Linked DNA regions of Homo sapiens: region 1 is linked to region 2. Evidence: fine-mapped expression QTL. A gene starts in region 2. The other region holds a variant in brackets. All regions are shown on one strand. Distances are between the middles of the regions.

Region 1 (8,000 bases), 23 kb before region 2:
AAGAAATAGAAGTATGGCCAGGCATGTTGCCTGACACCTGTAATCCCAGCACTTTGGGAGGCTGAGGTGGGTGGATTACCTGAGGCCAGGAGTTCGAGACCAGCCTGGCCAACATGGTGAAACCCTGTCTCTACTAAAAATACAAAAAATTAGCCAGGCATGGTGTGGGTGCCTGTAATCCCAGCTACTCGGGAGGCTGAGACGGGAGAGGCACTTGAACCTGGGAGGCGGAGGTTGCAGTGAGCTGAGACTGCGCCACTGCACTACAGCCTGGGCCACATAGTGAGACTCCATCTCAAAAAAAAAAAGAAAAAAAGAAAAGAGAAGTATATGAAATTGCAAAGGAAGAGATCATATAACTACAAACCCAAGATAATCAACTAAAAAACTACTATAGACAATACAAATTCACTAAGATAGCAGGATGTAAAAGTAATGTACTGAAATTAATAGCTTTCATGTAAACACAGTCAATTAGAAAGCATAGTAGAGGAAAGGGGGCAATTTACCATAACAAGAAAATGATTAAGTACCAAGGAGTACATTTAACAAAATTGTGCAAAACCTATACAAGGAAAACTTAAAGATACTCCTGAAGGAGGAAAAGAACAAGTTGATCAAACGAAAAAGACACACCAAGTACTGCAAATCAGTATTATAAAGCTGTTCTCTCTTTATATTTAATGTACCTGAATATGTATACAATGTTTCCTTGACTTAGACAAGTCCAAATGGAAAAAGGAAGAAGCAGGCATAACCAGGAAAACTTTAAAAAGAGCAATGAGAGGCCGGGCGCAATGCCTCATGCCTGTAATCCCAGCACTTTGGGAGGCCGAGGCGGGCAGATCACAAGGTCAGGAGATCGAGATCATCCTGGCCAGCATGGTGAAACCCCATCTCTACTAAAATACAAAAAATTAGCCGGGGGTGGTGGCGCGTGCCTGTAGTCCCAGCTACTCGGGAGGCTGAGGCAGGGGAATCACTTGAACCCAGGAGGCGGAGGTTGCAGTGAGCCGAGATCGTGCCACTGCACTCCAGCCTGGCGTCACAGCAAGACTCCATCTCAAAAAAAAAAAGAAAAAAAAAGAAAGCAGTGAGACATGTTAGCCCTACCAGATACTGAAGCATACTGTTAAGCCTCTATAATTAGAAGTGTAGTATTGCTGATGAATAGGCAGAGTCTAATGGGCAGATTCAGAAGTCCAGAAATGACATAATTACATGTGGAAATTCAGTGTATGATAGTGGTGGCTTCTCAGTTCAGTGAGTAAAGTTGGGACTTTTTAAATTTTTATTTGTATTCATTTTTTGAGATAGGGTCTCACTCTGTCACCCAGGCTGGGGTACAGTGGCATGATCACGGCTTACCATAGCCTCAATATCCTGGGTTCAAGAGATCTTCTCTATGTCAGCCTCCCAGTAGCTGGGACTCCAACCATGCGCCACCACGCCTGGCTAATTTTGTTTGTGTTTGGTAGAGGTAGAGACAGGGTCTCCCTATGTTGCCCAGGCTGGTCTCAAACTCCTAGGCTCAAGCGGTCCTCCCGCCTTGGCCTTCTGAAGTGCTGTAATCACAGGCATGAGCCACTGAGCCTAGCCTAAAGTTGGGACCTAATAAATGGTGTTTTTGGGATAATTGATAGTCATTTGGGAAAAGACAAGTTTGGGTTCATACTGCCTGCCAAATGTACACTTGGCTAGAATCTAAATGGTTGAAAAACTTAATGTAAAAAAATGAAGCCATAACTATGACTCAAAGTACAGAAGCCAAAAAGAAAGATTGATAAATTCCAACTATATAAAAATAAAACACTTCATAGCAAAAGCAAAACAAAACACTATTAGGTAAGTCAGAAGAAATGACAAACCAGATAAAAATATTCTGTAGTTCATCTTATAGACAAAAGGCCCAGTCTTCCTAATTTATAACATATTTATAGAAAGATCACTAAATTTTCTGTCCCCAAACTAGCAAAGGACATGAATGGACAGGCAACAGTCCTGAGAAATGCACATTAACACCAAACAGCAGTACTCTACTAGATGACCAAAATCCAGAAGTTTGACCACACATTATGTTGGTCGGGCTGTGAGAAAATAAACATGCTTGTGCATCCTCTATAGAAGGGAATTGGGCAATATCAAAGACAGCAGTTAGCGATTTACTTAGTAGTCCCAGTTCTGAGCCTCTACCTGACCTTTATATGTATAAAGTGACATAAAAATACAAGCTTATTTCTTGTGGCATTGTATGTTATAGCAAAATACTGAATAAATATAATGAGAAGGGATTTGTTAATCTGCATAATTTAATAATTATAGATAAATGATTTACACAATTAAATACTGTGTTCTGATAAGGGCTTCAAGCATATATTGTTCAATGAAAGAACAAGGTGCCAAATAGTGCATGATAGACTATTTTATATTTGCATTTGTTTGTAATACTCTATTTCCTTAAAGTAAAAAAAATTAAGCTTAGTGTTGCATAGTGGGCCTGTAGTCCTTACTGTTCAGGAGGCTGAGGTGGGAGGATCACTTGAGCCCAGGAGATCGAGGCCAGACTGGAGCAACATAGCAAGATCCTCCCACACCCCATCTCTTTACCAGAAGGCTAAACAAGATGCCTTTATTGATTACTTGTTTGGGGGATGGGTTGGAGGGAGGTATGGGAATGAGACTTTTCTGTGTACTTTTAAAAAATAAATTTAGGCTGGGTACAGTGGCTCACACCTGTAATCCCAGTACTTTGGGAGACCGAGTGGGCAGATCATGAGGTCAGGAGATCGAGACCATCCTGGCTAACACGGTGAAATCCTGTCTCTACTAAAAATAGAAAAAATTAGCCAGGCGTGGTGACACGCACCTGTAGTCCCAGCTACTCAGGAGGCTGAGGCAGGAGAATCGCTTGAACCCGGGAGGCGGAGGTTGTAGTGAGCCGAGATCGTGCCATTGCACCCCAGTCTGGGTGACAGAGCAAGACTCCGTCTCAAATAAATAAGTAAATAAATAAATAAATAAATTTAGACTTTGGGTCATGGAAATGTATATCCAATCCCAAATTTAAAATAGGCTCAAAACAGCTTTAAAATTATCTAACTTTTGGCCCGGCGTGGTGGCTCACGCCTGTAATCCCAGCACTTTGGGAGGCCAAGGTGGCGGATCACGAGGTCAGGAGATCGAGACCATCCTGGCTAACATGGTGAAACCCTGTCTCTACTAAAAATACAAAAAATTAGCCAGGTGTGGTGGCGGGCACCTGCCTTCCCAGCTACTCGGGAGGCTGAGGCAGGAGAATGGTGTGAACCCGGGAGGTGGAGCTTGCAGTGAGCTGAGATCGGGCCACTGCACTCCAGCCTGGTGACAGAGCGAGACTCCGTCTCAAAAAAAACAAGCAAACAAACAAAACAAAACTATTTAACTTTTTAGAGCCTTAAAACCAAGAAGGAGCAGAGAGGGGGTTCCAGCTCAGGACTCCATGTTCCAGCCCTTCCAGTGGTGTCAGGCTGCCATGTCTATATATATATATATATATATATATATATATATATATATATATATATATATATCTATCCTTTTTTTTTTTTTTTTTTTTTGAGACAGGATCTTGCTGTGTCACCCAGGCTGGAGTGCAATGACATGATCATAGCTGCAGCCTCTTTCTCCTAATCTTAAGCAATCCCCCCACCTCAGCCTCCCATGTAGCTGGGACTATAGTTTTGTGCCACCACACCTAGCAAGTTCTTTTGTATTTTTAGCAGGGACAAGGTCTCTCCATTTTGCCCAGGCTGGTCTAGAACTCCTGGTTCCAAGCAGTCCTCCTGCCTCTGCCTTCCCAAGTGTTGAGATTATAGGCATGAGCCACTGCCCCTGGCCTGCCCTGTCCGTAGATATGCATGCTAAGTGTTGGTCTGTCCTATGCATCTGAATCCTTGGTCCTTGTTCCAGGATTATGGCCACTGCGGTCTGACCCTAATCGTGAGACTGATGACACTTTGGTGCTCTCTTTTGTGGGCCAGACAAGGTAAGGATGGGTCTAGTGCCAGCTGTAGGTGCTGGTGAGAAGGTTGTGAGGTGGGGAAGCTGGTCCCAGGCTGACCCAGGCCCTCCATTCTGCTGCAGAGTTCTCATGTTAAATGGAGAGGAGGTAGAAGAAACCGAACTGATGGGTTTCGTGGATGATCAGCAGACTTTCTTCTGTGGCAACGTGGCTCATCAGCAGCTTATCCAGGTGATAACTGAGAAAGGGGCAGGTGTTACCATATACTTGAATTGACCTAGATGCAGTACAGAGCACCACTGGATTTTAAAACAACCAATTTTTATGGCTCCAAAAATAATGTAAAAATTCTAGGGAAAAAATTACAGATAATCCACTACTCAGAGATCACAACTCTTAACCTTAGAGTTGCTCCTTTTAGCTTTATTTTTCTTCTGCAAATGTCTGTGTATTTATTTACATTTTCTTTTATAGACTCGGGTCATTATATATATAAACATAAAAATATAGTTTCG[G/A]ATCCTATTTTAGCACTAATTATATCTTCCGAGACACTCAAATTTTTTCCCTTTGTTAAACTAGTGATACATCCTTATTTATAAAATTAGAAAATGCCAAAATGCACAAAAAAAGAAAAAATCATGATGCTACCATCCAATATGACTCTTGGCAGCCCTTTCCACATACTAATTATAACCGAAGCTTACCCTATTCTGATCCTTACTTTCAATCTATCTGCAATACGGGGGCAGATAGCCTTCTGGCATATTGTTATCCACGAGAGCCTCATTTCTGACACCCTTCCACCCCTCAGCAATTTTTTGAAGTTTGGAGTGACCCTGACATCCTTCAGCTTTTAGCACTCTCTCCTTACCTTCTGAGCTGTTCTTCACTCTGTGGCCAGAGTCTGTCTTGCCTTTGGTGGGTAGGGCACTGGAGTGCCTAAGGATTAATGAACTGTCTCTGTCTTTTTATCCACCTGGTTTTCCTTTTAGCCACCTGGCAGTGGTAGATTGGTAAAACCGGAGGGAAAGTTCTGTCAGTTTGCAGACCAAGTGTGGGACGTGCCCAGATACTGAGTCATTGCTTTGTCAGTGTTATCTAACTATTGGCCTGAAGACTGGCACCAGCTCACCTATTTATTATTAAAGAGCTTTCATCCTTATATATAAACTCAATTGTGCTAGGTAAGATGAATGAATAGATAACAGTGTCACCAACCTACTTCCTGTTTTATTTCAGTGATAAATTTATACAATATATTTCTATACAATTTTGTAATCTTTACTAAGGAACTTTAAATAATTTAAATGGCTCATACACAGTAAAGAACTTAGATATTTTAGAGGTCTGATTTGGGGGTTGAGAAAAACTGCTAAGACTGGTGGTCACAGTCAACATGGTGGCTCACGCCTGTAATCCCAGCACTTTGGGAGGCCAAGGCAGGTGGATCATGAGGTCAGGAGTTCAAGATCAGCCTGGCCAACATGGTGAAACCCCATCTCTACTCAAAAAACAAAAGTTAACCAGGCATGGTGGCATGCGCCTGTAATCGCAGCTACTTGGGAGGCTGAGGCAGGAGAATGGCTTGAACCTGGGAGGCGTAGGTTGTGGTGAGCTGAGATTGCACCACTGCACTCCAGCCTGGGCAACAGAGAGAGACTCTGTCCCAAAAAAAAAAAAAAAAAAAAAAAAGCCAAAAAACTGGTGGTCACAGGGTCTTACTCTATTCATATCTTCCCACAGGATGCAGTTTGTATTACCCAAGTAAGTCTCAATTAGAATGAAATAGGCCTTTTCCCCACCAGCTGTAGGTTTGTAAGCTGTAAGCTACTTTTAAGCTGGCCTCCTTCAGGCATTCATGCAAAAATGACATCTATTGTAATCATTAGCAGGACTTTGGGGAATAAGAAATAGAAGCCTCATGTAGCTTATTCGTAGGGCTCTATTAGGGCTGCATTTACCACCTTTCCACTCCTGTGTGGACCCTGGCAGATGCTTGGAGACATTTGTTCATCTGCTGTTTATCTAGATCACTTCAGCATCGGTGAGGTTGGTCTCTCAAGAACCCAAAGCTCTGGTCAGTGAATGGAAGGAGCCTCAGGCCAAGAACATCAGTGTGGCCTCCTGCAATAGCAGCCAGGTGGTGGTGGCTGTAGGCAGGGCCCTCTACTATCTGCAGATCCATCCTCAGGAGCTCCGGCAGATCAGGTGTGTGTGTTTTTCTGTCTGCTCGCTTTCCTCCTCTTTTCTCTAGGACTTCTTTGAGCCTTGGATTCCTTCCTCTGCCATATTCTTCTTTGTTCAGCCACACAGAGATGGAACATGAAGTGGCTTGCTTGGACATCACCCCATTAGGAGACAGCAATGGACTGTCCCCTCTTTGTGCCATTGGCCTCTGGACGGACATCTCGGCTCGTATCTTGAAGTTGCCCTCTTTTGAACTACTGCACAAGGAGATGCTGGGTGGAGGTATGTGTCATTTAGGGACCTGGGTTGGGACAGAGTCAAAATGTGGAACAAGAACATAATGTCCCCCTTTCTCACAGAGATCATTCCTCGCTCCATCCTGATGACCACCTTTGAGAGTAGCCATTACCTCCTTTGTGCCTTGGGAGATGGAGCGCTTTTCTACTTTGGGCTCAACATTGAGACAGGTGAGAGTAGTATTTTGAGTGAGGGACTCTTTCAAAAATAGAGTATTAGAATTACACAGAATTCTTAGTCCCAGGGTTCTGCTTTTGAACTTTCACAGGCCAGCTTTTTGTCCTGTTTTCTTTCTTCCTTTCTCCTGATGTCATTCTCTCTGTAGGTCTGTTGAGCGACCGTAAGAAGGTGACTTTGGGCACCCAGCCCACCGTATTGAGGACTTTTCGTTCTCTTTCTACCACCAACGTCTTTGCTTGTTCTGACCGCCCCACTGTCATCTATAGCAGCAACCACAAATTGGTCTTCTCAAATGTCAACCTCAAGGAAGTGAACTACATGTGTCCCCTCAATTCAGATGGCTATCCTGACAGGTGAGTCTCTTTTTCCTTATTTAATGAGAGCTATTGATTGAGGGGGTCATGATGTTTTCCTCAAACCCTTACCTCAAAGCCTTTTTCCGGTGTCAAAATCATAACTGAGATGGGAAGTATAGTGCAGAGGTTCTCAAAACTGGCTACCCAATAGAAACACTTGGGAAGTTTTTTAAAACTACAGGATTTTTGGAATCCTCAGTGGGTCTGAGGTTGAGCTCTGGAATCTGTATTTTCAGAAAACTTATCAGGTGATTCAGATGACTGTTTCATAATCCCTAATTTAGAGATCATTTTGTGTCCCTCTAGAGCAGGAATTCTCAAAGGGTGTCCCCAACCAGCAGCTACAGCATTACTTGGGAACTTGTTAGAAATGCAGATTCTCTGGCTGGGCATGGTGGCTCACACCTGTAGTCCCGGCACTTTGGGAGGCCGAGGCAGGAGGATCATTTGAAGTCAGGAGTTTGAGACCAGCCTGGCCAACATGGTGAAACCTTGTCTCTAATAAAAATACAAAAATTAGCCAGGTATGGTGGTGTGTGCCTGTAATCCCAGCTACTTGGGAGGCTGAGGCAGGAGATTCCCTTGAAATTGGAAGGTTGCTGGGTGCAGTGGCTCATGCCTGTAATCCTAGCTCTTTGGGAGGCTGAGGTGGGTGGATCACCGGAGGTCAGGAGCTCGAGACCAGTCTGGCCGACATGGCGAAACCCCATCTCTACTAAAAATACAAAAGTTAGCCGGGTGTGGTGGCAGGCACCTGTAATCCCAGCTACTCAGGAGGCTGAGGCAGGAGAATCACTTGAACCCAGGAGGCAGAGTTTTCAGTGAGCCAAGATCCCACCATTGCGCTCCAGCCTGGTGACAAGAAAAAAAACTGTCTTAAAAAAAAAGAAACTGGGAGGTGGAGGTTGCAGTGAGCTTAGATTTCACCGCTGCACTCCAGCCTGAATAACAGAGCTGAGACTCTGTCTCAAAAAAAAAAA
Region 2 (11,700 bases):
GTAGCCTGGGTGTAAAACCTGGAGATGGTGGATGATCCCCACGCCACAGCCCTTTTGTCTCTGCAAACTGCCTTCTTCGGAAAGAAGAAGGTGGGAGGATGTGAATTGTTAGTTTCTGAGTTTTACCAAATAAAGTAGAATATAAGAAGAAAGGTACATTTGTTTTTGCTTTTATTCACCCTGCCCAGCTATCCAGGACTCCAGGTTAACTATTCTTAATTTACTGCGAACTTAGGCAGTATCCTCCCTTTTATGGCAGTTGTTGCATTCACTTGCCCTTGCTGTTAGAACAGCTCTTTTCAAGTAGTGAAAGTGAAGACATCTATACCTCTTCTTCATCACGTGATTGTTTGATGGGATCCCAAGGATGATGGGCTTAGAAATTCACTGGTCTTTTTGGTTGTCCTTGACACCATTTGATTCTTACTTGCCTCTGTCGGTAACCTGCTGGGCCTGGGGGTTGCCTGGACTGCCTTTCCTGGTTTTATAGCCAGCTCTGTGTGCAGTGTCCAGTCATCTAGCCCCCAGGCCACCTAGTAGCTCCTCATGTACCTCCCAGCTGCTTGTTGCCACATGCCCTTTGGACCCTCATTTTGTTTCCTCTGATCTAATCAAGTGAACCTTTGGTGCTTTTGGTTTGAGAATACAGCAGGAGTAGGGCACATATGGGATTCACTCTTCTGTCTGGCAAACAAAGCCTGTCTTCTTTTCAGCTTGGTGGGCCAATGTCTGGGACCACGTTTCTCTCAGTGATCCGGTGGGAAGAAAGGCTGCTCTGTCCCCACGGTGGAGTAGGGTTGATACTAGGCATATTGGTGGCTCCTTTAAGACCAGCCTTTGATACAGTGTCAGGAAAATTGTGGTTGCAAGTTCAAATTGTGGTTTTGAGAGATTCTAGCTTAAAAAGAAAAGAGCTAAGAAGCATCCCTGGTTTGAGGGTCTTCTGGAGGAAGTTTCCTTCCCTGAAGGAATTCCTTGTGTTTTATTACCTTTTTTTCCCCTTACTCTTCTGAGAGTTCTGCGGGTGGGGGATAAGGGTCTTAACAAAAAATAATCAGCCTCTCAAAAACCACAGGTTGAACTGGAAACCCAACACTGTGATTTGAATTCTAGAAGTCATAGTTTGAATTTGAAAGGGCCTGCCCCCCTGCCAGAGGCCAGCTTTAATGAGGCAGGCAAGCAACAGTCTCCACATTGTGATTATTTTAAAAATTTAATCCTAGATGGGAGCGCTGACTATAAGGTGTCATAATCAGAAAGACAGAATGTGGTGGGATGATCATTCTGGGGCACTTTTGTGGTCTGACCTGCAGCTGCTGAGACCTGCTATTGAGAAGAAGGTTGTCAATGACTTGTCTTGAATTTGGAAGCCTGTGGAGTCCTTGCTATGTTTTGCTGATTTTTTGTTTTGTACACTCTTGGGTGTATTCACTCGGGATTGAATTCCAACTTTGGAAACTGATGTTCTGCTGCCATACTCCCACATCCCCTCTTAAACACCATTAATCACCTCTCTAGGGGTGAAAGGTTGTCTTTGGAGCGTGGCTGTAGCCAACTGGAACAGCTCCATTCCATGTAGGCGCTGATGAACTAGCATCACTCCAGGCCTCTGCACGAAGGGACCTTTGGGAGAATAATAGAAACACTGACTCATCACATGACCATTTGAAGGGATCACAAGCCAGAGGCTGTCATTCTGCAGCCAACAACAACTTGGATCCTCCACCCTCGGTGGAGGGTCCCTTTTGTTACTGAGAAACCACAAGCCACAGAAGTGGGAAGAAACACAGGAACTGCAATCAAGGGATATGCCCGAACTAGTCTTGAACAATAGTAAGTTAGAGACTCTGTGTCCAAACTGAGAAACCTCAGGGTCAAACAAAAAGACAAGAAAAACAAAAACCAAACTAAAGGGGAAAATGTTGATAGGAGCAAGGTGAATGCCATAAGGTCACAGAAACTTTATGGGGAAATGAAAGAAATGCCAGGGGCAGTTTGGACGTTGTTTGGAGATTCACTAACAGGAATTTACTGTGTACTAAGTATCCTAAATTCCTTAGGGTAGATGTGGGTTTTCTTCAAGCACAAAGTTGCATCTCAGCTATTCCAGCTGCTCATTGGCCAATATGGAGCAAACTCTGCCAGGGAGTGAGTTTTACAGGGTGAGGTGGAGCAGGTGGGGCTCCATAATGTAGCTAAGAACAGAGGTAGCTGAGGTGTGCTGGAGTGTGAGAAGATGGCATGAAATATGGAAGCCATGTGGACACTTGTTCTGTGTATGCCTGTTGAAAATTTGGGTAGCTCCCCTAGGGCCAGGAAAAAAGAGCACCTATTTGACATTGGTGGTTTAGGGGCAGTGGAGGGGGAAAGTGTAACCTTCAGATGTTTGGGGCAAGAGAGAAAGATGCCTTAGGATTCCGAGGGTCCTTGGGACTCAGAATGGATATGACGGAAATTGCATTCATCTTATGTTACAGAATATTTTGGCTCCTACTTGTTGAGAATATGTTGACAAGAAAATGGGCCAAAACAAACAAGGTGAGATACGGCCTCAAGGTGAATGTCTGCAAAAATGTAGCCACAAGCCGGGTGCGGTGGCTCACGCCTGTAATCCCAGCACTTTGGGAGGCTGACGTGGGTGGATCATTTGAGGTCAGGAGTTCAAGACCAGCCTGGTCAACATGGTGAAACCCCGTCCCTACTAAAAATACAAAAATTACCTGGGCATGGTGATGTGCGCCTGTAGTCCCAGCTACTCGGGAGGCTGAGGAAGGGGAATTGCTTGAACCCGGGAGATGGAGGTTGCAGTGAGCCGAAATCGTGCCACTGCATTCCAGCCTGGGCGACAGAGAAAGACTCCATCTAAAAAAAAAAAAAAAAAAATGGGGCCACACAGCTTCAGGTAGGGAGACCACTTGGCAGCTTGTGTTTAAATAACATAAAAGCACAACAAAAAATGCCTGCTTTTTTTCGTTCTTTTTTTTTTTTGAGATGGAGCCTTGCTCTGTCGCCCAGGCTGGAGTGCAATGGTGCAATCTTGGCTCACTGCAACCTCTGCCTCCTGGGTTCAAGTGATTCTCCTGCCTCAACCTGAGTAGCTGGGAATACAGGCGCCCGCCACCATGCCCAGCTAATTTTTGTATTTTTAGTAGAGATGGGGCGTCACCATATTGGCTAGGCTGGTTCTGGAACTCCTGACCTCAGGTGATCCGCCCACCTCAGCCTCCCAAAGTGCTGGGATTACAGGTGTGAGCCACCGCGCCCGGCCACCTGTGGTTTTTCTTTACTGCAAACTCAATGTGTCATAATTAACATCATGGGGTTGCCAAAAACGTAATATTAGGGTGCATTAGTAAAAGTATGGTGTCTGCAGGAAGGAGGCACGAGTCCAGGCCACCGCTGGTACGCCATGTCCATTTGTGGCCACCAATGTTAAGCACCTCAGTAAAGGCAGAGGTAGCAGGAAGGCCAAAGGAACAGGGATTGTTCAACTGGGAAGTGAAGACACTTTAAAACAAATGTGGTTCAAAACTGGATTGGGCCGCTTCTTAACAGATAGTGAGTTTCTTACCCCTGGAAGTATTTAAGCAAAATCTTGACTAATTGTGGGTGGCTAAGGGAAAGATTACTGCATGGAGCAGAAGGTAAAATCAGTTATCCTTTCAGCTTTCTCCCAGCGGGATGATTTTGATTTCCGCACCCCTTCTTTGCCTAAATCCCTAGGCAGCCCCCCAGTCTCTGACCACGGCCTGGGGCAGCTGCAGAAGGGGCAAAGAGGAGCCTTCCAGATCTGCTGCTGCCTCTCCACTGCCAACGGCGCCAGCTGCTTCCTGGTCTTGCCACCAGCAGTCGGGAGGCCGGCCATCTGCCCCCTGGGTGCCCAGAGGAGCCCGGGGCTTCAAAAGTGGCTAGGGCCCCAGGCCAGGGAGCGGTTGGACCCACAGATCAACGCACTCCGGCGTTAGGGTGCAGACCTTCTGGCAGGCTGGGGGCAGGCCTAGAACTGCTCAGCGGCACAGCGACCTGGCGTCGTGGGTTCGAATTTCCACGGTTCCCACCTCGTCACAACAAGGCGTCTCGGGTCCCACCGACAGGGGCCATGCCCGGGGCGCGCAGCCTCTGGTGCTAGCCTTGTTCCCGAAGTCTGTTTCCTCCCGGGGCCTCGGTCTGACGCCTTCAGTCAGCGCTTCGCAGGAAGCCGACTCCCAAACCGGGGCAGGGGGTGTGGGCCGAGGGCGAAACCCCGCCCCCAGGGGTCCCTGATCTTTGCCCCCGCCCCGGGCTCCGCGCCTCTCGGAGAGGCATCAGCAGGCGGGCGGCGTTGCCTTTGTGTGTTTCGCTTCGAGGTGCCAGAGACCCTCCCCACAATCGTCCGCCGCGTCCCCTCGCGGCCCTCGGCCCCTCCTCTCGGCGTCCCAAGCCCCCCTGCTCAGCTCTGCGTGCCATTTCGGGGATCGCTGGTTCGCTCCCCACGGCGCCAGGAGGAGGGGCGAGGGCCGGCAGCCCCCTCTCCCGCGCGCGGCGCAGGAGCCGAGCCCAGCCCGGGGGACCCGCCGCCGCCGGTCATGTGGGCCGGACTGCTCCTTCGGGCCGCCTGTGTCGCGCTCCTGCTGCCGGGGGCACCAGCCCGAGGCTACACCGGGAGGAAGCCGCCCGGGCACTTCGCGGCCGAGAGGTAAGCGCCCGGAGCTCCTCCCCGCTCCCCCGCCCGGGAGAGCGCTACCGGCGTGCAGTCGAGAGGCGCGGAGGGGCGCTCAGGAGCCGCAGGCAGCCGCGTGTCGGGGCTTCCTCTGGGGTGCTATCAGCGCGGGCACAGCTCGGGGACGGCACAAAGAGTCAGCAACTTGTGCCTCTAGGCGGGTGCTCATCGTGCCCCCCTGGCTGGGGCTGTCCAGACTGGGACCTGGGAGATCGGAGGTCCAGGCGTTGGGTGACTCCTAATGTGCCCTGGAGCGCGGACCTCTGGAGAGGGGAGCCCAGGACGTGCCATCTGGTCTCCGGACTGGCTGGCTCACCCCCCAGCGTGCCCGTGGCTCTGCCCGGGCAGCGCCTGGCCTCCCCTGCCGCGCGGGGCTTTCCCTGGGTCTTGGCCCTACGAACTTCATGGACCTTGGAACAGCCGGGGTCTCTGGGTCACTTTTCGTTTTCTGTCCGTGCGTGTGCGCGCGTGGGGGTGGGGTGCATGCCCCTCCGCTGTCTTTCGCGATGGATGCCGCCCTCCGCACGTGCTTTCCCCCGGGCCGCGGTGGGGCCGTGCGCGTGTGTGCGTGATGCTCGGAGCTAGGGAACACTGTGTCAGCAGGCGGCCTGGCCCGCGGCCACGTCCTCCGGGGGGCGCGCAGCGGGGGCGGCCCGGCCAGGCTTGTAGCTCACACGTGTGTTCCACAGCCACCGCCAGTTCCTGCTCAGAACCTGCCCCGACTCCCCGGCGTTCCACAGGCTCCCACCACCTGTCCCTCTGTCACCAGCCCTAGGAGGCTCCTTAGGGCGCTCTGGCGGGTGCTCGGTCCCTGCCCACCTGAGAGTTCGACTCCATCAGCCTCCCTGGGCACCCTTTTATCTGCCGCCTTGGTGGCACTGCCTGTCCGTTTCTGAGAGTCCCAAGGCTCCGCTCATTCGCCCGGTCCCCTCCTTCTCAGGCTGCTGCCATAATCACTCCAGCAAGGGGGTGGATGAGACTTCACTGCCAGCTCCCGCCAGCAGGAGGGCCCCCCCTTTCTTCTGTGATGACCTCAGAGAGGGAAAAAGGCCCCAGGGACAGCTTTCCTCAGACTTTTGTGTGCTGCCATTGCACCCTGAGCTTCCCTTTCCGGAATACTTGTCACATTTTGGCACAGATTTTTCTCCCCAAGAACACGCTAAGTTTGCCTTGTCCCATGTCCCCAGTGCCCAGCGCAGAGTGGGTGCTTTACAAAGTGCCTGCCTCGCAGAATCATCTTCCCTCCGCTCTGAACATTGGTGGAACACCATTGGGAAGGGGTTTCTTGTCCCTTTTCTGTTGCGGTGGGGTTGGAAGCTCAAACCAGGCTGGATTTCATCACCCTCTGTCCAGTCCATGACTGGAGCTGGTTGCAGTTGTCCTCTCTGTCCCCCTCCAGGCCTGCAGTTGTGCTGTTTCCCCTGCTAGAACACCCTCTCCCTTCCTCTTCTTTTGCTGGCTGCCCTACTTTTTTTTTTTTTTTTTTTGAGACAGAATCTTATTCTGTCACCCAGGCTGGAGTGCAGTGGTGCGATCTCGGCTCACTGCAGCCTCTGCCTTCTGGGTTCAAGCGATTCTCATGCCTCAGCCTCTCGAGCAGCTGGGACAACAGGCACATGCCACCACACCTGGCTAATTTTTTTTTTTTTTTTTTTTTTTTTTGAGATGGAGTTTTGCTCTTGTTGCCCAGGCTGGAGTGCAGTGGCGTGATCTCAGCTCACCGCAACCTCCGCCTCCCAGGTTCAAGCAATTCTCCTACCTCACCCTCCCAAGTAGCTGGGATTACAGGCATGCGCCACCATGCCCGGCTAATTTTGCATTTTTAGTAGAGTCGGGGTTTCTCCATGTTGGTCAGGCTGGTCTCAAACTCCTGACCTCGGGTGATCCGCCCGCCTTGGCCTCCCAAAGTGCTGGGATTACAAGCGTGAGCCACCGCGCCCGGCCTGTATTTTTTTTTTAGTGGAGACAGGGTTTTGCCATGTTGGCCAGGCTGGTCTCAAACTCCTGACCTCAAGTTATCTGCCTGCCTTGGCCTCCCAAAGTTTTCTCTCTCACCTCAGCCTAGATGCTGCCCTTCCAGGAACCCCCCCTGACCCTCCTCAGGGCTCCACAGTCTGTCCCACTGTGGCATTTGTCACTCTATGCTGTTATCACCTAGCTCCTGGTCTGCCCTACTTTCCTTGAAGGTGGGGGCAGTAGTTTGTTTATGGCTGTATGGTCACGCCTTACTCAGCACCCAGCACCAGTTGGATGCATCTGGCTTCCTGCCCTTTCTGGACCTCATTCCTGCTTGAACAGACCCCTACTGCCTCCAGTTTTGGGCAGCTCATTCATGACCCCACACCCACCCAAGAGATGTCACCTATGCCATTGCCCTTCTCAACCTTTCCCTCAACAGCCATTTATTGAGCACCTACTACATGCCAGGCACTCCTGTACGTGCTGGGGTAAATAGATAAGAAACCCTTGTCATCAGGGAGTTGTAGGGGAGACAATGAATTAATAAATTAAAATCTAATGTCACAGGAAGTAAATGTTGTGGAGAATAAAGCAAGGTAAGGGTGGACAAGGAAGGCCTCTCTGAGAAGGTGCCATGGGCAGAGATCTGGGTGAAGGGAGAGAGGAAGCCCAGTGTGTGTCTGAGGAAGAATCTTTCTCTCTCTCTTTTTTTTTTTTTTGTTTTGAGACGGTCTGGCTCTGTCACTTAGGCTGAAGGGCAGTGGCGCCAACTTGGCTCGCTGCAACCTCTGCCTCACAGGCTCAAGCCATTCTCCCACCTCAGCCTCCCGAGTAGCTGACCCTACAGGTGTGTGTCACCATGCCCAGCTAGTTTTTGTGTTTTTAGTAGAAACGAGGTTTCACCATGTTGCCCAGGCTGGTCTCAAACTCCTGGGCTCAAAATGATCAGCCTGCTTCGGCTTCCCAAAGTGCTGGGATTACAGGCGTGAGCCACCACACCCAGCCATAAGAACCTTTCTTATAGCAGGAACTGCAAGTGCAAAGGTCCTGAGGCAGCCACCCCTGGGGCTCCTCATCTATTGCACAGCCTTTCTTCAACTCTGAGGCCCCTCTCCTGGCCACTCTGCTGTGTGTTCACGTGGCAGATATCTGTAGGAGGCCAGTATCTATTGTCTCACACTTTTGTCTCTGTCTTGCCTCCAGGAGAAGACTGTTTGGGTCATTTTTCTTTGGAAACTTCCCATTGCCCCTCCAGACAGTTCTTGAGAATTGTTTGTTGATTCACTTACACACTGGCTGGGAGACTTTCCTGTTGACCAATGTCTCCCCCAGTATAGAATGAGGAAAGTGCTCTCTCTTCTCTTGCAGACGCCGACTGGGCCCCCACGTCTGCCTCTCTGGGTTTGGGAGTGGCTGCTGCCCTGGCTGGGCGCCCTCTATGGGTGGTGGGCACTGCACCCTGCGTAAGTGCTTGTCCCTGTGCCCCAAGTCTTCTCCTCCAGCAGTGTGTGTTGCCAGCCCTCAGTCCCTGGTCCGAGGGGCAGACGGGAGGCCCCAGTTCCTCGTGTCTCACCTGCACTTCTCCTCTCAGCCCTCTGCTCCTTCGGCTGTGGGAGTGGCATCTGCATCGCTCCCAATGTCTGCTCCTGCCAGGATGGAGAGCAAGGGGCCACCTGCCCAGGTAACTGGGGATGGGAAGGGGCTGATGGGAACAGATGAATGAGCATTGAGGTTATGTCCTGGGCAGTGGGCACTTGAGATGTGTCCTGGTGTCTCAGCTTCAGACAACTCCATTAGGTAGACATTTTGTGCCCATTTTATAGATGAAGAAACTGAGACACAGAAGTTATTGTCTTGCCCGGGGTCACACAGCTGGTAAATGGCAGAGCTGGATTTAAACCCAGGCCTGTTTGCCTTCAGAGCTACCCTCCCAACAGAATTCAGGAGGACCCTGGTGAAGTGGGGATGGTTGGGACTGCCACGGGGTGCATGCTCACTGGTGTGATGCCTGCTCTAGAAACCCATGGACCATGTGGGGAGTACGGCTGTGACCTTACCTGCAACCATGGAGGCTGTCAGGAGGTGGCCCGAGTGTGCCCCGTGGGCTTCTCGATGACGGAGACAGCTGTTGGCATCAGGTGTACAGGTGAGACGCCTGGGAGTGGTGGGGGAGGGGGAGGGGGACAGCGGGAATTATATCTCCTCCCCCTCCTGCCAGGATGGTCTCCAGTGTATTGCAAGGCTAAGCTGAGCCAAGATAGGCTCTGATGTTTGAGAGTGGGCAGAGAGACATGAGAACAAAAGAAATGTGTCACTTCTGTTATTTTACAATTATTTATTGAGCACTTCTTAGGGGCAGGAACTGAGCTAGGGACTGGGGTTATGGGAGCCACAGTTGGTCCCTGTTAGGGAGTTTTTTTTTTTTTTTTTTTTGAGACGAAGTTTCACTCTTTTGCCCAGGCTGGAGTGAAGTAGCATGGTCTCAGCTCACTGCAGCCTCCACCTCCTGGGTTCAAATGATTCTCCTGCCTCAGCCTCCTCAGTAGCTGGGATTACAGGCGGGTGCCACCACACCCAGCTAATTTTTGTATTTTTAGTAGAGACAGGGTTTTGCCATGTTGGCCAGGGTGGTCTCGAACTCCTGACCTCAGGTGATCCACCCACCTCGGACTCCCAAAGTGTTAGGATTACAGGCGTGAGCCACCGCACCCAGCCCCATTAGGGAGTTTCTGAATATGAGGAAGGAAGACAAGTAACAGGACAAGAACAGCTCCATTGTCATGGGGACCTTCACTGGGAAGGGCAAGGTGCCAGGGCCCACAGAGGGGCATGGAACCCAGAGTTGGGAGGGTTGGCCAGGGGAGGCTCCTTGGGAAAATGACATTTAAAAGATGAGGGACGCTAAACTCAATAATTAGTTTGTGAATGTATTATTTGCTTGTGATTTTTAAAACATTTCTACGGACAAAATCTGTTACCTTCCCCAGAAACAGTCACTGTGACCAGTTTCTTGTCAATCTTTCCAGAGCGACAAAAGCCTTTTTGGAGTTTTAACTTCGTAAAAGTAATATTTCTCCCCCTGAATAGAAAAGCAAGAGATAGTTCATTGTAGAACATTTGGAAAGTAAGAGGAGAAAGATGAAAATAAGCATTCTCTGGAAGTCCCCACCCGGAGATATTTGTTACTAAAATGAAGTTTTTTTTCCTGCCCTTTTCCCTGGGTGTGTCTGTGTTTGTGAGTGTGTGTATGTGTGTGTATGTATGTTAAGCATGCAGCATATATGTATGCTTTATAAAACTGGGATTATATCTTATCTGTAGCTTTTATTATTTTTCCCATCTAACTTTATGTTGTAGGCATCACTAACAATTCCTTGCAACATAATTTTTTTTTTCGCTAGGCTTGGTGGCTCACGCCTGTAATCCCAGCACTTTGGGAGGCCGAGGCGGGTGGATCACTTGAGGTCAGGAGTTCAAGACCAGCCTGGCCAACATGGTGAAACCCTGTCTCTACTAAAAACACAAAAACTAGCTGGTGTAGTGGTACATGCCTGTAATCCCGGCTACTCAGGAGGCCGAGGCAGGAGAATTGCATGAACCCAGCAGGTGGAGGTTGCAGTGAGCCGAGATCACACCACTGCACTCCAGCCTAGCGACAGAGCAAGACTGTCTCAAAAAAACAAAAAGAAAAAAAATTTTTTTTTAGCAGTTACATATGTGGTTGCTGTAATTGAAATAACTATTTGTCTGTTGTCCCTTATTTAAGAGGTTTGCAGTGTTTCACCAGTATAAATAATGCTGCCATAGGGCCGGGCACGGTGGCTCACCGCTGTAATCTCAGTACTTTGGGAGGCCGAGGTGGGTGGATCACGAGGTCAGGGGTTCGAGACCAGCCATGACCAACATGGTGAAACCCCGTCTCTACTAAAAATACAAAAATTAGGTGGGTGTGGTGGCGGGTGCCTGTAATCCCAGCTACTCAGGAGGCTGAGGCAGAAGAATTGCTTGAACCCGGGAGGCGGAGGTTGCAGTGAGCCAAGTTCGCGCCACTGCACTCCAGCCTGAGTGACAGAGCGAGATTCCGTCTCAAAAAAAAAAAAAAAAACGCGCCATAAAGAGGCTTCCTGTCAGCTTCTCTGATTATTTCCCAGAAGGACGCTGTTGGGTCCAAGGGTCTCAATAAAGGGGTCTTGGAGCTCATTGCTTGTTGCAGCATCTCCTCCAGATAGGAAAACCAATGGAAGCAATTGATCTGCTCCTGAATGCCTTTCACCTTGGGACATTTTCTGCACGTATTTCTCATTGCAGAGGCAAACGGAACCAAGGAAAAGCCAGAGAACAATGTCAAAGCACTTGCAGGACAGGGTGGCACTGACTGTAGCCACGAGACATCCCAGTGGAATGGGGTTAGTCAGAGTGGGCTTCTTAGCGGTGTTGAGCATGGTCTTGACGGTCCAGCTGTTGGGAAGAGTGGGTAGCTGCTGGGTAGAAGGCTAAGTAGGGGATAAGGAGAGTGGGGGTGTCCCATGGGCTTGGGGGCCACAGTGGCGAGGCTCACTACACAGTGAGTGCAGATTGAGTAGACTGAGCTGAGCCCGTAGGTCCTCAGAAGCTGCTGCGGATCTTTGGCAGGGAAGGGATGGCATGAAGCATGATTTGGGGAAATCTGTCTCCCAGCTCCTATCATCCCTCAGATCAGAACATCTCACTAGGCTCACCTTCGTAAAGTACTACTTGGATTTAGTCACTGCAACTTAGTCTCATCTTTTTTTTTTTTTTTTTTTTTTTTGAGACAGAGTCTCACTCTGTTGCTAGGCTGGAGTGCAGTGGTGCGATCTCGGCTCACTGCAACCTCTGACTTCCTGGTTCAGCGATTCTTATGCCTCAGCCTCCCAAGTAGCTGGGATTACAGGCACGTGCCAGCATGCCCAGCTAATTTTTGTATTTTTTTTTAGTAGAGACGGGGTTTCACCATGTTGGCCAGGATAATCTCAATCTCCTGACCTCGTGATCCACCCACCTCGGCCTCCCAGAGTGCTGGG

What was found. PIP is the estimated chance that this variant, and not a neighbour inherited with it, causes the effect.
Region 1: its variant is fine-mapped to the expression of VWCE in whole blood (INTERVAL, PIP 0.97).

The regions. Positions count from the first base shown.
Region 1 is chr11:61,312,516-61,320,515 of GRCh38, reverse strand. It overlaps DDB1 (damage specific DNA binding protein 1), which reads left to right. Exons shown (of 27, transcript NM_001923.5): 11 at 3,949-4,024; 12 at 4,123-4,231; 13 at 6,030-6,208; 14 at 6,306-6,469; 15 at 6,547-6,654; 16 at 6,810-7,017. Among named protein-coding and RNA genes, the nearest start is that of DDB1, 17 kb to the left of the region's middle. The variant G/A (reference allele first, on the strand shown) is at 4,516.
Region 2 is chr11:61,287,903-61,299,602 of GRCh38, reverse strand. VWCE (von Willebrand factor C and EGF domains) reads left to right here and starts at 4,287. Exons shown (of 20, transcript NM_152718.2): 1 at 4,287-4,675; 2 at 8,027-8,121; 3 at 8,250-8,339; 4 at 8,676-8,804. The coding sequence starts at 4,566. It overlaps DDB1 (damage specific DNA binding protein 1), which reads left to right. Exons shown (of 27, transcript NM_001923.5): 27 at 1-152. RefSeq lists silencers at 4,208-4,277, 4,458-4,767, 5,208-5,467 and an enhancer at 4,534-5,236.